Linked DNA regions of Homo sapiens. The protein of the gene in region 4 purifies or fractionates together with the protein of the main gene of each other region. This does not show direct contact. Each region holds a gene or a part of one and is shown on either strand. Other genes may lie near its edges. The genes, in order: KCTD5, BAG1, KCTD2 and KCND2.

Region 1 (7,038 bases), on a different chromosome or scaffold from region 4:
AGGCTCAGGCGCTGGCCAATGCTGCTGAGGTGAACTCCCAAAATGAGCCATGGCAGCTCCAGAGACCAGGTGGAGGGGAAATCACCCCACGCTCCCGAGCAGAGAGCTTCGGAGCCAGCCAGCCTCACTGTGCGTGGCCCACAACAGCTGTCTCCATGTGTCACGTGAGGGCTGCCCAACACCAGGTAGGGCAGCAACGCCCACGCCCTCGCCGGGCACAGCCTCCCAGAGGTCACTGCCATGCCGCACTGACCGGAGAGAGGGCAGTGGTGAGAGGTGCATGCCACCCCAGGCTTGTTCCGAAGGCTCCTGGAGGCCACGTCCCCTGAGCTGCTCAGCCTGACTCCAATACTCCACCCCCCAACAGCTCTGCCGTTCCCAGGCGGGTGCCCCCCAGGCTCAGTGCCCTGGACCACTTCTAGCTCGAGGCTCCCACTCACTCTCCAGTGCCTCGGAGGAGCCCATCCCCCTGTGCGAGGGGCAGCACGTCCCTCCCTGGGCCAGGGTGATTCCCAAGTTTACTGGGATGTCTGGAGTTGACTTGGGGAGACAGTGCAGCCCCCAAGCCCCCACCAGCCCTGTGTAAAACTAAGTAGCGCAGCGGACAGGCCAGGAGCAGTGTGGCATCTGAGCATCCGGGAGCCCCAACAGCTCCCTCCTGATGAGGGCAGGAGACACCCTGGAGACCTGCAGCCAAAGTGCTGTCCTTCGCCCTCCCAAGGCCGGGAGCAGCACGGGCTACTCTAGACAGAGCCTGGGGTGAGACCCATCTTTTCTGGACACACTGTCTCCCTAGGCCATCTTCCACAGGAAGGTCCAACTGCAGACACCAACCAGGGGGCCCTTGAGGCTGTACCCCATGGCCAGACACCCCCACAGGCAGGCAGGCCCGGGTGGCTGAGGGGCTTGCAGGACACGGCTGGCCTGGGAGGCTTAAGCGCATCAGGGATGCCGCAGGATTTGGCAGCTGAGATAGGGGTCTGCTGTCTGCCGCACTGGTCCTGACCCCTTGGCCCTGAGCCTGTGGCCTAAGCCAGACAGGAAGGTCACCCACTAGGGCTGGCGGCACGAGTGGCACTCCCTGCCCAGCCCCCAGGAGGGGCTCTTGGGTTCACGACCACTGATGTCCACAGCCTGGCCTGGCACGGGCACCCTCCAGTCATCCCAACAAACGCCCCAACACTGCCCCTGGGCATCTGCCTCACAGCAACAGCCCCACCACCAAGACAGTGCTACTGAGGATCTACAGCTGGCATGGAGTGCGGACGGCTCTCGTCAACTACAGGCAGGGACAGACACACAGGGAGGGTCTGTGGCAAGGGTCAGCTGGGGCCATGGGGTCAAGGAGGCCACGGAGCTCACCATGACATTCACACTTAATCTGAGCCACTCCCTGGGTGCCCCTGGTCCTCGTCGTCACTCTGGCGGCGTGCAGCGCGCAGTGGGGGAGAAGACAGGCTGTCAGGACAGTGCGGGTGGGCGGGTGCCCCGGGCCCAAACCCCCACGCCCGGTGACCTTCCAGTGAGGCCACGCCACGAGGGGACACACAGGCTCAGGGGCTCTGCCACATCTCAGAGGTGGAAACCTCCACGTGTGAGGCGGCTGCATCTTGCGATCCGGGGCTGGTCCTGTCCCACCATGTGCTGAGGGGCTGAACCCTGTCCAGAGGCGCCTGGCCTCTGGCCCCACTCCTGGCAGGCGGCGCTAGCCCACAGATCTCGGCCTGATAGGAGGGCCTCTGCTGCGTGGGCTCTGTGGACCCCACTGCATTGGCCCCACTGCTGCAGGAGGGAGGGTGGGGCCCTGGGTCACAGGAGGGATCAGCCACGGGGGCAGGCGGTGGATGCACCCATCGAGCATGGCTACGCAATGGAGCCCCAACACCACCAAGGAACCCCCTCCTCAGCCGCCCAGGCACTGGGAGACCCCGGCCTCTGCCCAGGTGCCCGCCCTTGCTGATCTGAGCCTGTCTCTCTCTGTTCCTTGGGAATAAATGGCGGCCTTGAGTCTAAGCGCTCTCAGTGAGCTCTGCGAGTCCTTCTAGCAAGTTCTTGAGGGACTGGCGTGGGAAGCAGGTGTGCTCATGTGTGGACCGCCTTCACTTGCTACAGGTGCAACCCCTCCCGCCCCACCACCCAGGCTCTCCCGCCGCCGCTGACTGAAGTGGGGGACAGCTGCCCAGCAGGGCCAGGCCACACATGCTGCAGGGACACCAGCGACGAGGGCCCACAGCCCATGCGGCCCTGCGCAGCCCAGCCAGGGGTGCCCCCATCACGGTCCTCCAGCTCTGGCCCCCGCAATCCCCCACGGCCTCCTGAGGCTCTGGCCTGAGCTCTGCCTCCTGGGGCACTGCTGACACCACCCCCATCAAGAAGCCGCCATAGCTGCCCCACTTCAGAGCAGGTATTTTTGGAAAATGAAATAGGGCCACATTCTCAACCACAAAGGGATTTGGGGTCATGCCTGGAGCTTCCTCACAGTACAGAGCGTGTCCTTTCTGCAGCTGCCAAGCCACCTGAGGGATAGGAGCCCAGGGGAGCTTGGTTATAAAAACTCAGCTCAGAAATAAAAAACTTCTAAAAATAAAACCATTTAGAAAAGAGCCCTACGATTGCTCCAAGAGGAAGAGAAGTGCCTCCTTGTGACTGAGCTGGGGCTCTCAGGGAGCCAGGGGTCGCCTCCTAGATCCGAGACTCAAATGGAAGAGCATCTCCGAGCCTGGCGGTGGAACCCCAGCTTCCACCCCGGCTGTCCCACACCAGGGCCTGCCCCAGCCTACACTGCCTCGGCCTCGAGGAACGGCAGTGGAGCAGGACTGGCCTCTGCCCACAGCAAGAGCACAACGGGTGGCCAGCGAGGGAGGCTCTGGGCCAGGACAGTCGCCTGAGGTGGAAAGGCTGCCGTGAGCTGGCCGCAGGCCTCCGAGAGACATGCTTGGCGGCCCCACCCCTCTGTTCCCAAGGGCATACCTCCAAAGGCCTACTCGGAGAGGCTCACGGGGACAGTCCTGGGCTGCTGGTGGCCGGCCAGAGGCCCCCAGCCAAGAGTCTGCGGTTGCCCAGGTGTCCCTGGTTTAATGCCACCAGTTAAAAGCCTTCCGGTTCTGGCCTCTCATGGCACCCACTCAACACCCTTTGCCAATGCCCCGAGCCTTCGCCCCAGGCTGGCTCCCCACAGAGCCCGCCCCACCACCCAGGCTCTCCCAGACCCACGCAGACCCCAGCCAAGAGCTCTCCAGCCACCACCTGGCTCTGAGGTCCGGGAGTCCTGCCAGGTGCAGCTGGCCCAGGCCAAGGTCAGATTCTGCTTGGATGGACGCATTTGTCCATCTTGGAGCCTCAACCTTAAGAACGTGCTTAGAGGAAATGCCACCAGAATGGGTCACCTGTGGGCAGGGCCACAGGGCCAACCTGAAAGCAAACGAGGCAGGGGTCCCTGCATTTCACCCCAGCTGCCTGCCCCGCAGAAAACAGAAGGGCCTGAGCCCCCGCAGAGTCTGCGCCGGTGCTGCCAGGCTGGGTGCCGCAAAGGGCCTACTCTGTGCAGCCTGAGAATCCCAGGGCCTGCAGGACACCCTCCTCTCGACAAAGATGAGGCCCACGTAGTGGCTGAGCCAGGGTACCCACCCCTGCACTCAGGGATGGCCCAGACCCCCACCACGACAACTGGACCCCCATGTCCCTGCACTCAGGGATGGCCCAGACCCCTATGACAGCCAGGCCTCAGCATCCCAAGTCCTCACTCACACAGCAGAGGCTGGGCCCGGGGAACAGAGGACCCTGGGTCCCCTGAGACACAGCCCTCAGTGGCATTCCTAAGAGCATGGCCCCTGCAGCAGGCCTGGGGCCCCTTCCAGGAGCAGCTCTGCATGCAGGCTGGGAGGCCGCAGGGGCTTACTGGGAGCCTGTGTCGAGAGAACCTGTCCCACGGGAGACCGTGTGTCCAAGAAGTCAGCAAGGCCACCAGGGGCGGACACCGGGAGCTTGATGAGAATGGCAGAAAAGGAGGAAGGTCTGAGAGGGCAAGAGCCTTCCCCACCCAAGACTGCCCCAGGCCAGGGCCGGCCCAGCACTCACCTTGGCCTTCTCGCTGGGCTCGCTGGCCGTACCGTACGGGGTGTTGTGCAGCTCCTTGGACACCACACAGAGGAACTCGGCTTGGTCTTCGTTCCCATAGTTGTAAGAGGAGCCGATGCTGACCAACTGCAAGGAGACATAGCCTGAGACGCAGCCCAGTGAAGCCTGAGAGACCCAGCCAGGCTGACATGACCAGCCTCAGGACGCGCCTGCCACCGCGAAAGCCACAGCAAAGACTGCCGACGCTTCAGGAAATGGATGGAAAACAAATCCCCGGAACACCTGCACGAGCACACGGGGCGGCACCCCACGCCGTGGCATGGCATGGGGCGAGCTCTTCCTCTGTGAGGACCCTGAGCTTTCCTTGGCGCTTCCAGCTGGGCCAAAAGGGGCTGCTGCCCCAGGGGGACGGAGCACAGACGGGTCCCTGAGCTGGGGCGGAGGGAGGGGGGCAGCGGGAGGAGAGTGGAGGGCGGCTCTGAAAACCTGGAGGGAAGAGCCTGGGACCAGCTGACTGGACCGAAAGCCGCTGGAGGAGCTGTGCTGTCCAGGAGTTCGGCCAGGGCGGGTCTGCTGCAGCCTGCTGGCCACACCCTTAGGCCACTCCAACCTGCCTCCCTCCGGGTCACCAGGCAGGCCAGGCCAATGCAGGTCCAGGGCCAACCTGTCTCTCTGGCCAGGCATCTGGCCCATGGCTGGCTACCCTGGGCCACCAGGCACTTCTGTGCTTTTAAAGGGAAAATTAAAAGGCAATACGCAAATCACAATAAGCATGACAGCAGCAGATGACCAAGCCAAAAAGCAGCTGGACGAGGCTCACACTTTGGCCTCTCTAAGACCTGCGCAGTTGGACCAACGGCCGGGAGAGCAGCCCGCAGCTACCTGCTGCTCCTGTATAGCTGGCGGCTGACCCAGTGGGCAGCAGTGGACCCAGCCCAGTGAGGCGGCCACAGGGGTGCCGGCATGGGCCCAAGCAGCTAAGGGTACCCCTGGGAGCACTCACGGCCATGCCCCCCGGAGCCCCTGTGTCCTCACAGCCACTTCCAAGCCCTGCTTGCAATCCCCTGCTGACCACTGGGGACCCTGGGTCCGGTCTGGCCACCTCCCAGCACCCCGCAGGGTCCCACCCCACAGCCGGGACAGCTGGTCAGCCCAGCGGCTTCCCTACATGAACTGGGAGAAGGGGTCCCCAAGGGATGAAGCGTGCCAAGCAGGTCGTAATCAAGGAAGGGGGAGGACACCCGTTCTTTGCAATGGGTTTGGAATCCACCCAGAAGTGCTAAGGTCGAAGACCTGAAGCTGCCCCGGGAGGCAGGTGCCCACCACGGGCAGGAGACATTGTTCCCTCCCAGCCAGAAGTCACAAGACGGTGGCAGAAGAGCACAGGTGCCACATGGGGACAGCCCTGTTCGCGGACCCCGAGCTGCTGACACGGCTTCCCAGGGCCCCAGCCCCACCAAGGGACAACTGGGAGGTGGGGCTCGCCCAGCAGCAAAGATTTCTGTTCCCGTGGGAGGCTCTGGCACGATTCTGATGAGGTGCAGGGCAGGGACCAAGCAGCTGGTCAGCAGCCCTGTCAGCACAGAGACCCAGAGTCACCCCGGCCCCCGGCCTAGGGGTCCAGGGTGGACGGTGGGACACAAATGTTTTTAGTGACATTTTAAGGGGGGGGGGGCTCCAAGTACCCTACAATGTGATCTATTATTTTGAAAGACTCCAAGGAAAAGGTAGCTTTCATTCAGAGGGACACTGGCTGAGCCTGTCACTCCCACAACCTGGCAGGCGCACTGGGCCATGGACAGAACCTGCCCCAGACAGAAGCAAGTGACAGAGGAAACTCAGGACAGGGAGGGCTGGGTGAGGTCACTGTCCCCACCCTCAGTGTCTGTCTAGCACCAGGAACAGTGGCAGCCAGGTCGTGGGCAAGGGCCCCCCGGTCAGAGGCCATGCCTCACGTGTCCTGAGGTCCCCGATGACAAGCCACAATGCCATGGCACAGTGGCCCATGCAGCACTCAGGTGGCTTCCGTGGAAGCTGCTGAAGAAGGCATGCCCTGCACAGACCCATCAGACCCCACCCGCCGCAGCTTGCCAAAACCAGAGAGAAGGCAACGAGGGCCTGGCAGCACCTTCCAGCATGGGCGGGAAGGGGAGGCAGCCTGGGAAAGGCGTCAGGGCCTCCATATGCTCCGATGGAGTGAGCTGTGGGGGACGGGGATTGCGCTGGATAGTGGGCTGGCCAGGAGGCTCTGGGGACGCCAGTCCCCTCCCTCACACAGAGGTGCCAGATGATGCGAAGAAAGCGCAGCGCTGGGAAGAAGAGGCAGGCCAGGGAGGAGGGGAAGGTGCGGGGCAGAGCCTGAGACACCTCTGCCCACCCCACCCGAACTCCCAAGGCTCCTCCAGTGGAAACAGGGCACAGGTCGCTGCCGTGAGCACCCCCAGAACTGCAGGAAGACGCCAGCAGCAAAGTCTGCATTTCCAGGAGCACTGAGCCCTGAGCCATTGTGAGCACAAGTTCAGCTGCAGCATGGCTGCCACCAGGCTGGCCAGGGCCCCTCACCTGCTCGAACTTCCAGCCGTCGGACATGGTGGACACCATCTGCGTGAGCTCCTCCTCCTGGCACTGCAGCACACGGTACACATGCTTCACAGGCACCTGCAAGGACAATGGGCACAGGTAAGGGCGGGCCACCCATGTCCCACTGCTGCCTGTGGCCCCAGCCCAGGTGACCCAGGGAGGCTGAGGTCCACTCTGCAGTTCTCAGCACAGGGCACGAGGCCCAAAGCAATCCTGAGCACATCCACAAAAGCAAAACACGCGGCCCGAACAGCTGCTGTTTTCTGCTTCCTCGTTCGCCTCCAAAAATATTTCTATTTCTAAGTTCCAAAATAAAATGAGTCATGTTCCTGAAATCCCAAGAGCACCTGTGGCTCGACATGACGACACGAGAGCGTCCAC
Region 2 (2,776 bases), on a different chromosome or scaffold from region 4:
AGAAGAAGGGGTGCTCTCTCCCCTTCTCACGGGAGAAGAAGGGGTGCTCTCTCCCCTTCTCACGGGAGAAGAAGGGGTGCTCTCTCCCCTTCTCACGGGAGAAGAAGGGGTGCTCTCTCCCCTTCTCACGGGAGAAGAAGGGGTGCTCTCTCCCCTTCTCACGGGAGAAGAAGGGGTGCTCTCTCCCCTTCTCACGGGAGAAGAAGGGGTGCTCTCTCCCCTTCTCACGGGAGAAGAAGGGGTGCTCTCTCCCCTTCTCACGGGAGAAGAAGGGGTGCTCTCTCCCCTTCTCACGGGAGAAGAGTTTCACAGGCAGAAACCCCTTGGGTGAGCAGATCTGCGTGGGTGGGGCCTGTGCAATCACCTATCACATCTGCCCAGCAGTCCATGCATTAGGGCCTCTTTTCTCAACCCTTAAGACAATAAAGGCTGTTAAGGCTGTAAATTCCAATGCTGACGGAGATTCTGAGGCCAAATGCAGCTATAGAAGTTTCACTATTGATGTGTGCATTCAACATTCATTTGTTCTCCAAATATTTATTGAGGTCTTACTATATACAAGACTATATAACAAGTTATGCTTGTTATATATGTTATATATGTTATGTTATATATATATATGTTATATATGTAATATAACTATATTACAAGTTATGCTTGAAATAATGCTGTTACCAAGATAAAGAAGCTCCTTCACCCAAGGAACCCTGGTGTTAAAGGCAAAGATTAACCAAATAATCCCACAAGTAAACTATCATGGACTATGTAAATGCTGTGAAAGAAATGTATGGGAAGTCGAGAGAGGATCCCACCTGGGGGCTGGACAGGGTCTCAACACAGTAGGTGAGGGTTCTCCATGCAAGAGACATGTGAGTTGAATTCTGAAGGATGAACAAAAGTCACCTATACAAGGGTAGGGTTGGAGGAAGGAAGGTGAGGAGCTGTTCAAGCAGAGGTAGTAGCAGGAGCAAAGACCCCCAGGCAGGAGAGGGTGCAGTGCATCTGAGGACCTGAAAGAAGAGTGGCTGACAGCAGACAGCCAACAAATGAGGGGGTTGAGATGAGATGGGAGAAGGCATGGGGTAAAGACTTTTGCCTAAAGAGAAAGTGAGCCATTGGAGGGTTCTAAGCAGGGGACTGACATGGCAAGATTTGCACTTCATGATCACTCGGGCTGCTCTAAAGAAAATGAACTAGAGCAGAGAGGAAGTGGGAGCTAGAGGGAGAGGCAGAGGACAAGAGGAAAAAAATCAGAGAATGGGCCTGTGCAACCCTGTGTTGGTTGAGAGGCAGTACAGTAGAGGGGAAAAGCACTGGCTCTGAAACCAAACCACCCAGCTTTGTGTCTTGGCTTTGCCGCTTACTCTACAACCTTGCGCTAATGACCTAAGTTCTCTTGGTTTCCTCATCTCTAAAATAAGGATATCTGTCTACCTCTCAAGTTATGTAAGAATTAAATGACTAATATATATGAATAGTTTAGAATGGTGTTCGGCAGTTTGGTGCACAGTAACTTCTCATTAAATGTTGTGGCCCACGCCACACAGCTATCACACAAAAATAGATCAATAGTGAACCACTCTGATTAAAGTTGGGGTGCGGTGGGCTGGGACCCGAGCCTTGTCCACAAGTCTACCTCTACTACCTTGTCTGAGGTCTTAACCTGCCCAGTCCTGAATTCCTGGGACTTCAACGACTCTCTCTCTGCCAAATGATGTGAGTCTTTAGGTAGAGTTATAGCGCAAAGGGCTACTATCAATGTTATTAAGCATAAATTATGACTAGAGCCACAGAATGATTTCCTCATTAATCCAAAAAAAAAAAAAAAAGCAAACCACTCTTCTACTTTATGATGAGCACATAAACAGTTTTTTTTTCTTTTTATTTATCTACTTTTACTTACTTAAATTTTAGAGATGGGGTCTTGCTATGTTGCCCAGACTAGACTCAAACTCCTGGGCTCAAGTGATCCTCTAGCCTCAGCCTCCCAAGTAGCTGGGACTACAGGAAGGAGCTACTGCACCTGACTCAATTTTTTTTTTTTCTGAGATGGAGTCTCACTCTGTGACCCAGGCTGGAGTGCAGGGGCGTAATCTCGGCTCACAGCAACCTCTACCTCCCAGGTTCAAATGATTCTTGTGCCTCAGCCTCCCCAGTAGCTGGGATTATAGGCACATGCCACTACGCCAAGCTAATTTTTTTTTTTTTTTTTTTTAAAGCAGAATGGGGTTTTGCTATGTTGCCTGGGCTGGTCTCAAACTCCTGGCCTCAAGTGATCCGCCCGCCTCAGCCTCCCAAAGTGCTGGGATTATAGGCATGAGCTGCTGCGCCAGGCCTTAATTTTTTAAAAACAATGATGGGGTGGGGGTGGGGGACAGTCCACAAAATGGATAGAACAGCTGTGAAGGAAACATAGAACTCAGAAGGATATGGTTAACAAAAATGCCTTTGAAGGAAGCACATGTCACTCCTGAGAAGTTTATGGTTGGCTTCACCACCTGCCTGCTTTACTCATTCTGGTGCCTTCTCTTTGCCCTTCCTAATCCATGGCTCTGGCCTGGTTTCAAGCACAGACTCAGTCAACACTGGGTTCTAACCTTCTGAAGACTTGCTTGGGGACAAGGAAGCCTTGCATCAACCACAGGCTCCATCCAAGGAACGGCCCCCTGGTATCTCATGGCCTGTGGCTAGTCAGGGTCACTGGGAGGTGAGGACAAAGTCTAGAACCCAACAACCCAGCCAGATGCTCTGGAATTAGGTCACAATGAGGGATAAG
Region 3 (7,038 bases), on a different chromosome or scaffold from region 4:
CTCTGTGGATGCAGCCCGAAAGAGGGTGCTGCCGCATCCGGATCCTCGCCAGCATGGCACTCCAGAAAAGAAAGTAATGGCGGGGGTCAGGGGGGTGGTCAGAGACACAGGGGGTCCCCAGACTGCCTAGCACATACATACATACCACTGGGGACAGTACAGAGGGGAGCAGGTCCGCCAAGGTTAGAAACCAAGAGACACAAATATTGCACATTCAGTCAAGGCATTTCCAAGAGAGTCACAGAAATAACTCTCTCTGAGACACAACATAACACATTTGGCAACTTTCAAAGAAACAGCCTTCCCCACTCCAAGCCATCAAAGGGTCCATAAGTGCCTTCATCTTTGGTCCAGTTGAAAAAGCCAGGGAAGGAAGACAGGGTCAATGGGGAGTAAGAAGAGGCTGCAGGTGCAGTTCCTACAGCTCCCACTTGTCTGACTCAGTGCAGGATGCCGCCTGTCTCAAACCTCTTCTTGGAGGGAAAACAAGCTCTCCAGAGGGTCCCGGCTGCTGGAGAAAGGTGAGGCAAAGCTGCATGTGGTGGCAGCCGGGAGCCCCAAATCCAGAGCAATGATCACCAACCTCCAACCACAACAAAGGACACCCCATCCTCCCTTTCCTTGGAGGCTCTATTCATGGGAATGCGGGGTACTCTGGCAACTCTATGCTTTACCTAAAACCTCAATTCGACAAACTGCAGCTAGAACCCTTTGCATCTGCTGCACGTCTTGGAGGGTGCATAGGAGGGACGGTGTTCCGAAGCAGCTGCTAACGTCCATTGTGGCACACATAGGGTGAAACCATGGCACGGCACGGGAACAATCCTCTTGGCTCCAGCGTCCTTAAAGTACAGGCCATTTCCAAGGAGCTAGGCCTTCCGCCCTCATCCCCCAGATCCCCGAAAGGCTCCGACTGGGAACCCAGCCCAGCTGCTGTTGTAAAGATCTGTTCTAATACTGGCTAAGCAAATGAAAGCAGGTTTCTGAAAAGGTATTCTGCAGCCAGAAGTCGCACTGTCTTCGGAGTCCTGCAGGTGGGGAGGGAGTTCCTTTAGTTTTGACCAGAACACTTCTTCACAGGGGGCCAGGATCAGCTGTGCTTTGCAGTGGCTCGGTCACTGGACAGGAGTGAGGTTTCACTTCACAGAGGGGCTCTGCTGACTGCTCTCCTGAAGGTCTGGAGTTTTCGGGGTCTTAGTTTACATCCGCGATCCTCTCTCCTGAAGAATCTGAAAGTTGGAGATGGGGGAGAGGCTGAGGCTGCTGAGGGAAAGACAGAGATGTCGGGGGATGCTTTCCACTGGACCCGATGAGTGGCATGATGGTCCTGTCATCCCAGGAAGCAAGCAGGGGTGCAGCCGCAGCCTCACCCGCAGTGCTTCTGGTGCGAAACACTCTCTTGCTGGGCACAGCTGGGTCTAAAGCTTATATGCTGTTGGACCAAAGCTTTGCCAACTGAAAGGAAGTGGTTCCAGCTTACCTGGTATCCACGATTTAGAAGCTGTGTGTGTGTGTGTGTGTGTGTGTGTGTGTGTGTGTGTGTGTGTTGGGGGTGAGGGGGGTGCACAGTGGAGGGAAAAGAAACAGTTTTCCAGGAACTTAAGGGAGGTAAAGGTCACCAAGGTAAGAAAACACCCTTTTCTCCTGAGGCAGTGAAAAAAGCACAGTTTTAAAGAATAAATCAAAATACCTTCCAAGTCTGAGTTCAGAAATCCTACCCTGTAGTAATTAGTGGCAACCAGCTTTTCTTTTTCATTGATTTGGCAGAGGATGGAGAAAGTCTACCCTTTTTAGGTTCATATTTTCTAACTAAAAACACCTGTCAGTGCTCCGTAAATCCCAATTAAATTACAACAGTCAAAAATAACAAAACGAGGGGAAAATGCAACGCTGGCTCTAGAAGGCCAGGGAAGAAGTGAGGAGCAAGAGTTCAGGAAAAGCCCACGGAGGGGGTGCGAACAAGCAAGCCAGAGGCAACTGCCCAGGGAAGGGGCTCCTTACCTTCGCCTTTTCGCTCGGCTCTATGACGATGCCATTGGTAGAATTATTTAGTTCTCTGGAGACAACACAGAGGAATTCTGCCTGATCCTCATTGCCGTAGTTATAGGAAGATCCGATGCTGATGAGCTGATGAACCAAGAATACAGTGAACATTCATGTGGCAATCTTAACATACTTTCGAAAGTGCTACACAAATCACCCCTCTTCCGACTGAACTTTTAAGTTATCAAAGGTTTAACTCTTTATATGAGTTCTCTGTGACTACCAAAGCCCCCGGGGAGAAATGGGCCTGTTCTTCATCAGGGCATCATTGGTGAGGCCTCCCCAGGAGGAAGAGTATGAGCTCCACTGTCCCCTCACCCAAGCTCTGAAGTCCCCCCCCGTCAGCGGCAGGATTAACATGCCCACGCCCCGTCGAGCACAGCAAGGGAAGACAGAACGCATCTGCCAACAAAATGGACATTTGCCTCAGTCACACACACAGCTGGCTCCTCTATCAGCAGAAGCCCTAGACTGGGGACAGGAGGCTCTGGAAAGCACCGAGCCAATCACTGATCAGCTACTGGAAGTCATATGCTGCTGGTACTTTTTATTTCCAGACAGGGTCTAGCTCTGTCACCCAAGCTGGAGTGCAGTGGTGCAATCACAGCTCACTGTAGCCTCCACCTCCTGGTCTCAAGTGATCCTCCCACGTCAGCCTCCTGAGTAGCTGGGACTACAGGGACTACAGCCACCATGCCTGGCTAATTCTTTTATTTTTGATAGAGAAGGGGGGTCTCGCTATGTTGCCCAGGCTGGTCTCCGAACTCCAGGACTCAAGCAATCCTCCCACCGTGGCCTCCCAAAGTGCCGAGATTACAGGTGTGAACCACCGTGCCCAGCATGCTGGTACTTTTAACCTTTTTGGATAATAGAATTCAGAATTTAATTCTAAAGAGGAAATACACACGCAGGGGAGCAGCTCAGGCAGAGGGTGAGGGCATCCCAGTGAGCAGGCGAGGCCTCACATGGGCGGCATGGCTGACTGTGGTAGGATGGGGCTGGGGGCGCCTCCGCCTGTCTGAAACAAACTTCCTCATCCAGAAGGGAGGCAATAGGAACACCCTCCGTCTTCCCACGGGACAGTAATAAGATGAGAAATTAACAAGAAATTATTCATTTTAGTTTCACAAAGAATACATTAAAAAAATCCTTTGCTTAAGAGCTCATATTAGGAAAAATACTTCTGGAGTGGAGGGCATTAAACTCTTGGCGACGTTTTACAACCCATGCCCAGTAAGAACCAGGATGACAGACACAGGCAGAGTGGATTCCGTGGTGGAAGCTAAGTGTGAGAAATAATCACCGCTGGCTCTGAAGGCAGAGACAGCTTTGCACTTGATCTGTGAGATAACAGCATTAATGCAAAGTGTGAGTTTTCTTTTAGAAGGTAAGCATCTGGTGAGACAGCTGTTGACCTGTTAAAACTCTACACATAAGTAGGCATAATCCGTATAAAATCATATTTACTCAGGCGGTTGATCCCAGGGTGGCGAGTGGCGGCGACCGAGACCCTGAGTGCAGCCTGACCCGCCCTCGCACGCGCGCCCTCCCTGGCCGGGCCCACTCGCCACGCGCCCAGCCATGAACCTGGCGAGCCAGAGCGGGGAGGCCGGCGCCGGCCAGCTGCTCTTTGCCAACTTCAACCAGGACAACACAGAAGTGAAAAGGGCATCAAGAGCAGCTGGTCTTGGCTGTCGCGCTGTTGTCTGGTTAGTTCCAACCCTGGTTTCTGAAAGTATCACCTTGGAAGGCTTATGTTAGAGGACTTTTTTGGCTTTTTGAAATTGAAGTGAACCAGTTAATAAGTGGCAGAGGATCACTTGAATGTGAAATAGAAATATCAAGGACTACATTTTTCCAGTGGACACCACAGCTTGTGGGAAGTTAGTGATGTAGCAATGTCTGTTTTAAATGCCATGTCTAAAAGGGATGGAATGAAGAAAGGGATTTGACTTTCCAAAAAAAAAAAAAATTGTATTTACTCTATTCGCTCTGGCCTTCCTATGTTTTGAAGGCAACAGAATTTAACAAGTCTGCCATCTAATGGAGGAGAACAGTGAAGCTCCAACTGTCATAGCTTTGTTTTGATAGCTCAGTCGTAAGCACGAGGCGGAGAGAAGTAGGGGAAACGGCCGCACCACACTTCCCATGGCGCCTGATCCTTCCTAGCACAGCTGTTCACCAAGCTCTTCACGGTGGATTACATAAGACATTCAGAACCAAAAAGTTCTGACCCTGGGAAAAGAAATGGAAGGATTGTTGTCGAATCCCAGTCTCCTTTAGGGACTCATTCTACGATCCCTGTGAGGGAACAAAAACCAAAGGCTTTGAGGCACTTCAAGCCTAAACTGCTCGTTGGCTCCCCTGGAAAGTCTGCGTGTGAAGCTAAGACATGATGCTCCTCTGTTTCCCCAACTCCTCACGCACCACTAGGCCAGCAGTGCCCACCAAATGGCTCTTTGCCCATGTTTTGGAATAGGATCCCACCTGGCCGTAGCCGTCTCCCGTGGTTATTAATTGGCCATCCACACTGATTGTTTGAAGAGCTGCAGACCCCTTGAACGGGGCCTGGGATTGCTGCTCTGTTAAGAGATGTACCTGTTCGAATTTCCAGCCGTCGGACATCGTGGACACCATCTGCGTGAGCTCTTCTTCCTGACACTGCAGGACTCTGTACACGTGCTTCACGGGGCCCTGCAATGACCAGGCGCAGACTGAGAACAGCACCAAGGACACCACAGTTTGCAGCTGCCCCAAGGAGGCTCTTCAAATGAATAAACACTGAAAAGGAGTTTGCTTGGAAATCTTTTCTTGGCAGCCACCCACTATCCCCTTTTACAAATAGTACTGTGGCGTTTCTTTTTTTCCCTTCTCTTTAAAAAATGTTTTTCTTTTTAAGTGACCACAAGCCAGCATACTGTGGCTTTTCAATAAAAACATATCCAAAGAGTGAAAGAATAAAAAAGGTAAAATAATTCTGAACTTCAGAGGGATGAATGCTTGAGCAACTATGCCAACAAACTTAGATTTAATCCATTTCCCCAAGTCAAAAATAAGGTAAAATTATTATTATTTATTATTATTATAATTTTATTTATTTATTTTTGAGACGGAGTCTCGCTCTGTCGCCCAGGCTGGAGTGCAATGGTGCAATCTTGGCTCACTGCAGGCTCTGCCTCCCAGGTTCACGCCATTCTCCTGCCTCAGCCTCCCAAGTAGCTGGGACTACAGGCACCCGCCACCACGCCCGGCTAATTTTTTGTATTTTTTAGTAGAGACGGGGTTTCACTGTGTTAGCCAGGATGGTCTCGATCTCCTGACCTCGTGATCCACCCGCCTCGGCCTCCCAAAGTGCTGGGATTACAGGCATGAGCCACCGCGCCCGGCCTATTTATTATTATTTTTTAAGACACAGTCTCACTCTGTCGCCCAGGCTGGAGTACAGTGGCGCGATCTCAGCTCACTGCAACTCCGCCTCCCCGGTTCAAGCGATTCTCCCGCCTCAGCCTCCCGAATAGCTGGGATTACAGGCGCCTGCCGCTAAGCCTGGCTAATTTTTGTATTTTTAGTAGAGAAGGGGATTCACCATGTTGGCCAGGCTTGGTCTTGAACTCCTGACCTCATGATCCACCTGCCCTGGTCTCCCAAAGTGCTGGGATTACAGGCATGAGCCACCGCACCCAGCCTTATTATTATTTTTGAGATGGAGTCTCGCTCTGTTGCCCAGTCTGGAGTGCAGTGGGGTGATCTTGGCTCACTGCAACCTCCACCTCCCTGGTTCAAGCGATTCTCCTGCCTCAGCCTCCCGAGTAGCTGGGATTACAGGCATGTGCCACTACGCCCAGCTAATTTTTTATTTTTTTTTCCTTTTTTTTTTTTGAGAGAGTCTCGCTCTGTCGCCCAGGCTGGAGTGCAATGGCACCATCTCAGCTCACTGCAATCTCCGCCTCCCGAGTTCAAGCGATTCTCCTGCTTCAGCAGCCTCTTGAATAGCTGGGATTACAGCCGCCCACCACCACGCTTGGCTAAGTTTTGTATTTTTAGTAGAGACGAAGTCTCACCATGTTGGCCAGGCTGGTCTCAAACTCCTGACCTCAGGTGATCCGCCCGCCTTGGGCCCCCAAAGTGCTGGGATTACAGGCATGAGCCACTGTGCCCAGCCAATTTTTTTGGATTTTTAGTGGAGACGGGATTTCGCCATGTTGGCCAGGCTGGTCTTGACCTGAGGCGATCCACCCACCTAGGCCTCCCAAAGTGCTGGGATTACAGGCATGAGCCACTGTGTCCGGCCGACAATGCTGTATTTTTTCTTCTATGTTTTCTTCCAAAAGAGGTATAACGATCGCCGGGTGCAGTGACTCACGCCTATAATCCCAGCACTTTGGGAGACCGAGGTGGGCGGATCATCTGAGGTTGGGAGTTCAAGACCAGCCTGGCCAACATGGTGAAACCCCATCTCTACTAAAAACACAAAAAATTAGCCAGGTGAGGTGGCACGTGCCTGTAATCCCAGCTACTCGGGAGGCTGAGGCGGGAGAACTGCTTGAACCCCGGAGGCAGAAGTTGCAGCGAGCTGAGATCGCGCCATTGCACTCCAGCCTGGGCGACAGAGTAAGACTCTGCCTCGAGGAAAAAAAAAAAAAAAAAAGAGGTATAGCTATCATTAACCAAAGTACTAAGGATTTCAAAGATTTCCTTCCATATTACATATAGTACAAATCCTCTGAAGATTTTAATTGGTTGTAACCACTTATTTTGGAAACCAATTGTATAAGTACAAAATTCAGAGTATCACAAAAGATCTGTGATGTTGGCCACAGCTGTCAAAGTCCCAGGTATTTAAGATGCCATTATACTGCCTCTTTTTTCTCCCTTCCAAAGTAAACCACTTGTGCTCTCAAATGCACCAGGATCAATCACCTACAAAAAATACTATTCTAAGAAATAGGAGTCTGGGTATGGTTGCTCACGCCTGTAATCCCAGCACTTTGGGAG
Region 4 (7,038 bases):
GATAGAATTGATGAAACTTCATCCCACCTTGAAGTCTTTGTACTCCTTTTCTCTCTTCCTCTAATTCTCTTCATCCAGATAGTCAGAAAGTCATTTCATCACTTTAATCAGCCATTGGCTTAAATGCCAACCCCTTGGAAAAGCCTTGTTTGTCCCCTATGCAAAATAGCAGGCTTGTTACCCAGATGTATTTTGTTCATAGCACTCATCTCTACGTGGCATTATATCATATATTTACATTTTTATTTCTGACTCTTCCACTATTTTAGTTTTAAATAGTTCCTAAGGTGAGAAAGTTGACCTTTTGGTTACTGCTGTGGTCAATGACAGGTAGCAAGTGATCAACAAAGGTCTATTATGTTGAATTGAACTCTGTGAGCCACAGTCTGATTCCCTGAGAGTGTATGTTACTGGTGTTATTTTGGGTTTCCAAGAGCACTATTACTGATATTGTTAAAAGTGAAGAAAATGAAGAAGACGGAAGAATTAGGTCCACATAAAAGCAAAAAAGACAAGACCTTTTACTTTTAGAACAAAATCTTCCCATTCTATTTGACATTATCTCAACTGTCATCCTACTCTTTCAATGTTATTTTTTCCCATTATTAACCTCTAGGAACTCATTCCCTACTCCCCCCACACTTTTAATGATTTAGATCATTACATAATAGACTTGTCAAAATTCCCAAGGCAAAATGGATTGCGTTATGCTAGAATATATACCTACATTTATCTTTACATTTTGTAATCTGCCTTTTAATTTCTTAGAATGTTAACTTCTTCCTGATGGTGATTACATTGAGCTTTTCCTGACAGAAATTGCATCTATCTCCTATGTCATTTACAGACAATATTTCCCTATTTTAAAAAATTCTATTTTATGCATAAATGAGAAAACCTGGATGAAAAACAAGAGTTCCAGCTTGTGTTACTGGTAAGAGAGAACACCTTTCTAGTGATGAAGCATCATCAAAGTATCTGTTGACCCATGGGCTTTTTAAGCTACTCGTATTTACATAAGGAACTGGGCTTTCAAGGGAAGGTAGTATATTTCTATGTTGATTCACCTATATCATGAAGCATCTCCATATGCTTCCCAAAGGCATCCGCAATTTACCTGGACTTCACCAGAAATCAAACTGTTCAAGAAAATGGCAACTGGTAGCCATTAATTCTAGCCTTTGCAGAGTAGTTAGTTATGGATGAAAAAGTTGAGGTCTCACAGCCCTTCCCAGTCAAAAAGAGAAAAATTAAAAGGGTACATTTAGTAGATGAGAGGACAAAATGTTCAAATAACAAATGTAAATACTTTTAACATTGAACAAAGCAAAATAATTTGGCTTAAGAGTAGCAGATTATTGCTAATGTTGAGATGGCACAGCTCCATGGCTAAGGAGCTCTCCATGGCGTACAAGTGCCATCTCACACCATGATCAGCAACACATTAACATAGATATTTTCCTACATTTGAGCACCGAACTAGGTAATAACTCCCCAGAAGGTATACACTCAAACCTCAAAAGCCTTTCAATTTAGTTAGAATGTCAAGAGGTAAAACCATAAATTATATATAAAAATGACACTTACTAATATCAAGCACAATTCCAACTATAAATGACGTAGGCTTGCTTAGGGGGCTGAAAAGCCTTCATGGAGAAGGTCAACGTAAAGGCTGCCTCTCAAAGGAGAAAACTAAAGGGCAAAACATTCAAAGAGCAGTGCAAATATGCACAAAAATGGTGTTTCACCCTGGGGTTTTTTTTTTTTTTTCAATATCAGACGCTATCCCACATCATCAAATCTAGCTGCAGAAGCTAGTGGGAGAGCAATGCTTATACATACATATGTACATAAATACATACATACATGCATACGTGTGTGTGTATCCCTGCTTAGAAAACAATATAAGACATATGGAGAGTAGAAGGGAGGAAAGGGAATGAATTCATTATCACAACTTTAAAGGAAAAAATATACTTCCTTTTCAGTGAATGTTTATTTCACCATTTGTGTTCTTTCAATGAAAGAGAAGTTAAATTGCATATTTTTAATGACTCATAGGCCAACTCTTTCAGGAAATTAGGGCAAAATAACTGAATTCTTTTCCATCAGGCCAGGTAAAAGATTCACCATTGAGTAGTTTGCCGCCAAACGGCCTGAAAGTTCACTGGATGAGAATACAAGGTTGTATTATATCAGATGGGCACCATTATGATAAACCCCAGTGCTGTTTGAATAAATGCAGAGCCAGCAGTGATATTGAGGAATGTGGAATGAGTCACATCAATAGAACTAAGGGAGAAATGCACTACATTAATAGAATAAATAGCAAATGTATTCCTTCTCTTATCCCTGTATAATCAGCAGCAGTCCCGATAATTATTATAACACATTTCTAGATAATGTTTTAGGGTCTTCAGAAGAAAATGAGCATAAAAGTGAAATTTCAAAAAATATTGCTGCTATCCAATTATGTAACTATGGACAAGCCACACAATTCTTAAATGAACAAAATTATTAATTTTAAATAAATGATGGGTCACTTTTCTTCCACTAGGAATGTAGAGATCAGGTAATAAGAAATTTGAACTTTGTGACTCATTTTCAAAGATGAGTATAATTGAGAGGAATGTTCAGAAGTAAATGATGTAAATATAAAAATAAAATAAGACAGTTTATCAGTAGTCTAAAGGAAAATTAAAAATAAAAAAGAATAGCATAACAGACCCACTGAAAATTTAAAAATAGCGTTTTCTCTAGGGTACTATGTTGAAATAACACATATTAAACCTTTTCTGAAATACCTCTGTCTGGCAACCAAGTAAATGCTGAAGTACTACAGGCTGGATTAACATACATATTTTTAAATTCCACATCAAATATTGTCTCTAATTCAAGTGATGGCTAAAACAAAATGAAGACACATAAGATTTGGTTACTTGTAAGGCTAAAAGAGGAATACATACCACATTTCTCTACATTTCTTTAAAAGTTCATTTTCAACTTCCATCAACTAACATTTTCTATAAAGAACTTTACACAAATATGTCATAGTATGTCAAAATAAAAATAGATGTTACTCATATTATGGCACTTCACCAGAAAGATAAATTTTGGTACTTCCTACCTTTTAAAGAGTTTTATATTAATGCACTAGCAATAGTTATGTATAGATGTTGGCACAAGGGAAGATAATTTCACCCATTTCAGTAACAGCTGGGTAAACTTTAAGTCTCTACATAAATGATTCTGCAAGATATACTCCCATCATTACCCAAAGCTATATAATCAGAATACTGACAGGTATCAGGAGAATAGTATTTAAAAGTTTATCCTTCTCTTTAATAATATATAATTATAACATAATGTTATCGTATATCATAGATATGATCATATATATGCATATGATAAATTATTTCAAAGTATGCCATTCTAAAAAAGGAATTTCCCTGATACATCGCTATGAAAATTTAAGTGAAAACTTTTCTGCTTTTTTGTTGTTCCTTAAAATAGTAATTCACCAAACGCACAAAAATTGAAATATGGCAATTATGCTAAGTTTTCTGGCAGCAAAGATGTAACGCCACCGTATTTGTTTTAGATAAATATATAATACAAATTAAATTTTTACTTTCCCAAATTTGTTCTGAAATCAGCATATAATTTATATCGTTAAAATAATAAAATTTATCTCTAAACATAAACTTTACAGAAATGCCATGTAGCAACTTTCCCATATTGAACACTTTGATGAAAACAATTTTGTTTTAAAATTAAAGTGAGATGAACCACAAAAATAACACTCCTGAAATTCTTAAGTTTTATATTATGAGTAATATGATCCCTTCTTTTAAAGAAATTGTCTAAATGGTAATAAGACCAAGAATGCAAATATTTATATTACTTAACATAATAATAACCCTTCAATTATTTAATGTGCCACCTGGTACCACTTCTAATTTCCAGATCATGTGTATGAGGTGCAATAGTAAACTGAAGCTTGACACTGTCTAGTACATTTTTACAAAATAGTTTTTGATTATTGGTGAACACTTGGAAATTTCCTAAGTTTAGCAAGATTTGAGTACTACAATCTAAATGAAAAATAACAACTGGATGTTATTTTCCAAAGGACTTTAGGACAAAAGAGGAGTTCCAGGTTCTTTTTCTAATAAGGCAGTTAATGGCAGTAACTAGAGTTTACATTATGGAAAGGGGAGCCGGGTGGATAAAAGGGTGATTCAGGGACCTGTGAAATGCGCTCAGAAAGAAGGGATGAAATGGAGGAACAGAGCTACCTGATTACTCAATCTAAACACTTAAAAAAAATTCTGACATTATTTTTTCATTTTTTTTAAACTGTGCTTTCTATGTTTCCTACTTTAGTAGGAAATTAAGTAGCCTGAAAACTATTTTTAAAGCGTTCATTTTTCTGATAGATTAAGTAATGACTTATACAGTAAGCATAGTCAAGTTATAGTCTACTGATATATTTGATATTTCAAGGAGCAAATAAAATGGTGATACAAATACACCTTGGTTCTAAGATAGACACACTCAGTTCTTTAGATCATAAAACCAACTGAATATTGTCTAAAATACTCTAGAAGCTGCAAATGATTCTGCCAGTCCTGAATGACAAAGCTCTTGGTTATTTATTCTCATGTAGATAACGTTCATACGAGATGGAACTTTCAATAACCACTGTTTACAATCACATTTTCACTTCTATTATCACTAATTGAAGAACATTTAGCTCCATTAAAATTAATAGCCCCATAAAAAGAGCTCAGATAACTCTTGATAATCATTCAGACATAGTTGGATATTGGCTTCAACTATTATTTCCCAGAAAGTTTGCACCTTACACTTCATCCTCTAAGTATAGAACTACAGCCTAAACAATAAAGTTAGGCAATGGCTTTTATTGAATATTTTGTATTATTAAATAACTGAGTCACAAAGATGGCACCAAAAAGGCAGGGCTTATAAGAATCTGTTTCTTCAGGGTACAATACATAATACATTTTGATGAGAAATTAAAGACATTTTTCTATGAAATTCTGTTATATTATAAAGCATATGATTTGTCAAGTGTCCATATATGTTCTCATTTTGATTACATCGACATTTCCACATCTTAAAAGTATGACTGCTCTATTCCATCAGGATCATTAATTAGCTTAATTTCCTGAAAATTAAAATGTTCAAATTCAGTGAAGCTAAGTCTTTAAAGTAACTTCCACTTAGCTTCCAAGTTCTGAGAAAGCGTGTGTATTCAATGCTTCTAATCCACTTACTTACCTATGAAACATGTGAACTAAATCCACTGCATAGATTTTACTCAGGCAATATAATTCAATTTCTTAAATATTTTCAAAAATGGGTGCTTTTAAGTATTTTATTTACATAATAAAAAATTGTCACTAATGTTTAATGTTGTCTCATATTTTCCTTGAAACAAAAATAAGCTTCAAAATAAAATAAAAATTGGAAAGTCATTTCCAGAAACAAGTTTTAAAATAATGCTAACTTCTCAAGTCTAGTATAGAACTATTAGCTATATGAAATTAGAATTCTCATCAACATTCTTTTTATACCTATATTCAATCATATAGACACTATATAGCATTAAAATGATTCACTGATACCTCAAGAAACACAGCCATATATACCAAATTTTTAAAGTGTATTTCATTTTAATAGTTCTCCCTTCCTATTAAAACAGAATCTTTTTTATTCAAGTGTACTTCTAATTTGACGTCATGATGGTGATTTGCACTACCCATTTGTCCTTAATAAGGATCTCCTGCTACAAAATGACAAGACAACAAAAACAAACCTCTTTGATAAAGAATCAGCACCTACACTGCGAAGGCATTCTGCATCATCCTTATCCTTATAAACTGTCACAAATTTGCCAACAAGATAAAAAGGAAATATAAGAAGTAGAACATGGATTTTCACTAATTCATTTTTTAAATGTACCAGTAGGTCTTTAAAAAAATGAGACTAAATAAAAATCATAAATCATTGTATTTTTCTTTACCCCAATTTCTTGTTTAACCTAGCCTAAAATTCTTCATATATAAACTATTCCATTAGCTGGCCACATGACATGAGAAATTCTGTACAACACAATATGTCTAATAAAATTAAGTTGACTTTAACCACAATGTCATTTAAAGAAGCCAATTAAATTATCCAAAAACACAAAGCTTAAAGAGTAGCCTTGGGAATAACTTTTTTCTTATAGCCATTACCAAATCCTCACTAAACTGATTACCTATGCAAGAATAGTAGCACAAAGCTGAAGAAAAGGCACTCACATCACTCCCCAGCTTATCTAAGAACTCATAAAAGTAAAAAGATCTAACCATTTTATTTTATTAGATTCTCTAATATGTAAAATGCTGCTACTTTTCTGCAGTTTAACATTATTAATCATTTGCCTCCTTTCCTTTTCTCTACTACCTAAAAAAACTTAATTCTAGCCCTAAAAGTATATTAAAAACAACAGCATGAATTCAGAAATTTGTCCCTTTGGTTGCAGAACTTCATTATACCCCCAAAAAAGAATTCACAAAAAAATTCTAAAAGGAAATTAGGACCCCAAATTTTATAATACAGCCAGCCTTGGTGACCATCAATCTTACCAGATACTGCTCTATCTTCTATGTGTATTTAATGGGTGTGGACCCATTGCCTGATGGGATCTGTAGATTCTAAAAAAAAATGTGTGGATGACAGTCTTTTGCTTCTTTTTTTGAAACTATGAACCTAGAGCTTGAAATATGTTGCAAATTTAATTCCACTGCATATTGTAGAGTTGATCAGTTTCAGCTCTGATATTCTAAAAGACTGAATAACCTATCAACCATAATTAAAGTGCATACATATGAATATGTGCATATATATTATAAAATACTTTGATAATTACATCTACAATCTATGTATTACGATGTAAAATAGGAATTATGGTTCTTAGAGGAAAAATGTACACCATAAGTATCTATTCATATGAAAATAATAGTTCAA

What was found.
Region 1: the proteins of KCND2 (region 4) and KCTD5 purify together in Homo sapiens (affinity purification with mass spectrometry; 2 studies listed by BioGRID and IntAct, with this or other methods). This does not show direct contact.
Region 2: the proteins of KCND2 (region 4) and BAG1 purify together in Homo sapiens (affinity purification with mass spectrometry; 2 studies listed by BioGRID and IntAct, with this or other methods). This does not show direct contact.
Region 3: the proteins of KCND2 (region 4) and KCTD2 purify together in Homo sapiens (affinity purification with mass spectrometry; 2 studies listed by BioGRID and IntAct, with this or other methods). This does not show direct contact.

Annotation. Positions count from the first base shown.
Region 1 is NC_000016.10:2,699,518-2,706,555, reverse strand, and holds part of KCTD5 (BTB/POZ domain-containing protein KCTD5), read right to left. Parts: intron 6,736-7,038; coding exon 6,640-6,735; intron 4,204-6,639; coding exon 4,078-4,203; intron 1-4,077. UniProt on the Homo sapiens protein: Its interaction with CUL3 suggests that it may act as a substrate adapter in some E3 ligase complex. Does not affect the function of Kv channel Kv2.1/KCNB1, Kv1.2/KCNA2, Kv4.2/KCND2 and Kv3.4/KCNC4.
Region 2 is NC_000009.12:33,251,950-33,254,725, forward strand, and holds the end of BAG1 (BAG family molecular chaperone regulator 1), read right to left. Parts: 3' UTR 522-2,776; downstream 1-521. UniProt on the Homo sapiens protein: Co-chaperone for HSP70 and HSC70 chaperone proteins. Acts as a nucleotide-exchange factor (NEF) promoting the release of ADP from the HSP70 and HSC70 proteins thereby triggering client/substrate protein release.
Region 3 is NC_000017.11:75,057,209-75,064,246, reverse strand, and holds part of KCTD2 (BTB/POZ domain-containing protein KCTD2), read right to left. Parts: intron 4,738-7,038; coding exon 4,642-4,737; intron 2,128-4,641; coding exon 2,002-2,127; intron 1,230-2,001; coding exon 1,200-1,229; 3' UTR 1-1,199.
Region 4 is NC_000007.14:120,276,160-120,283,197, reverse strand, and holds part of KCND2 (A-type voltage-gated potassium channel KCND2), read right to left. Parts: intron 1-7,038. UniProt on the Homo sapiens protein: Voltage-gated potassium channel that mediates transmembrane potassium transport in excitable membranes, primarily in the brain. Mediates the major part of the dendritic A-type current I(SA) in brain neurons.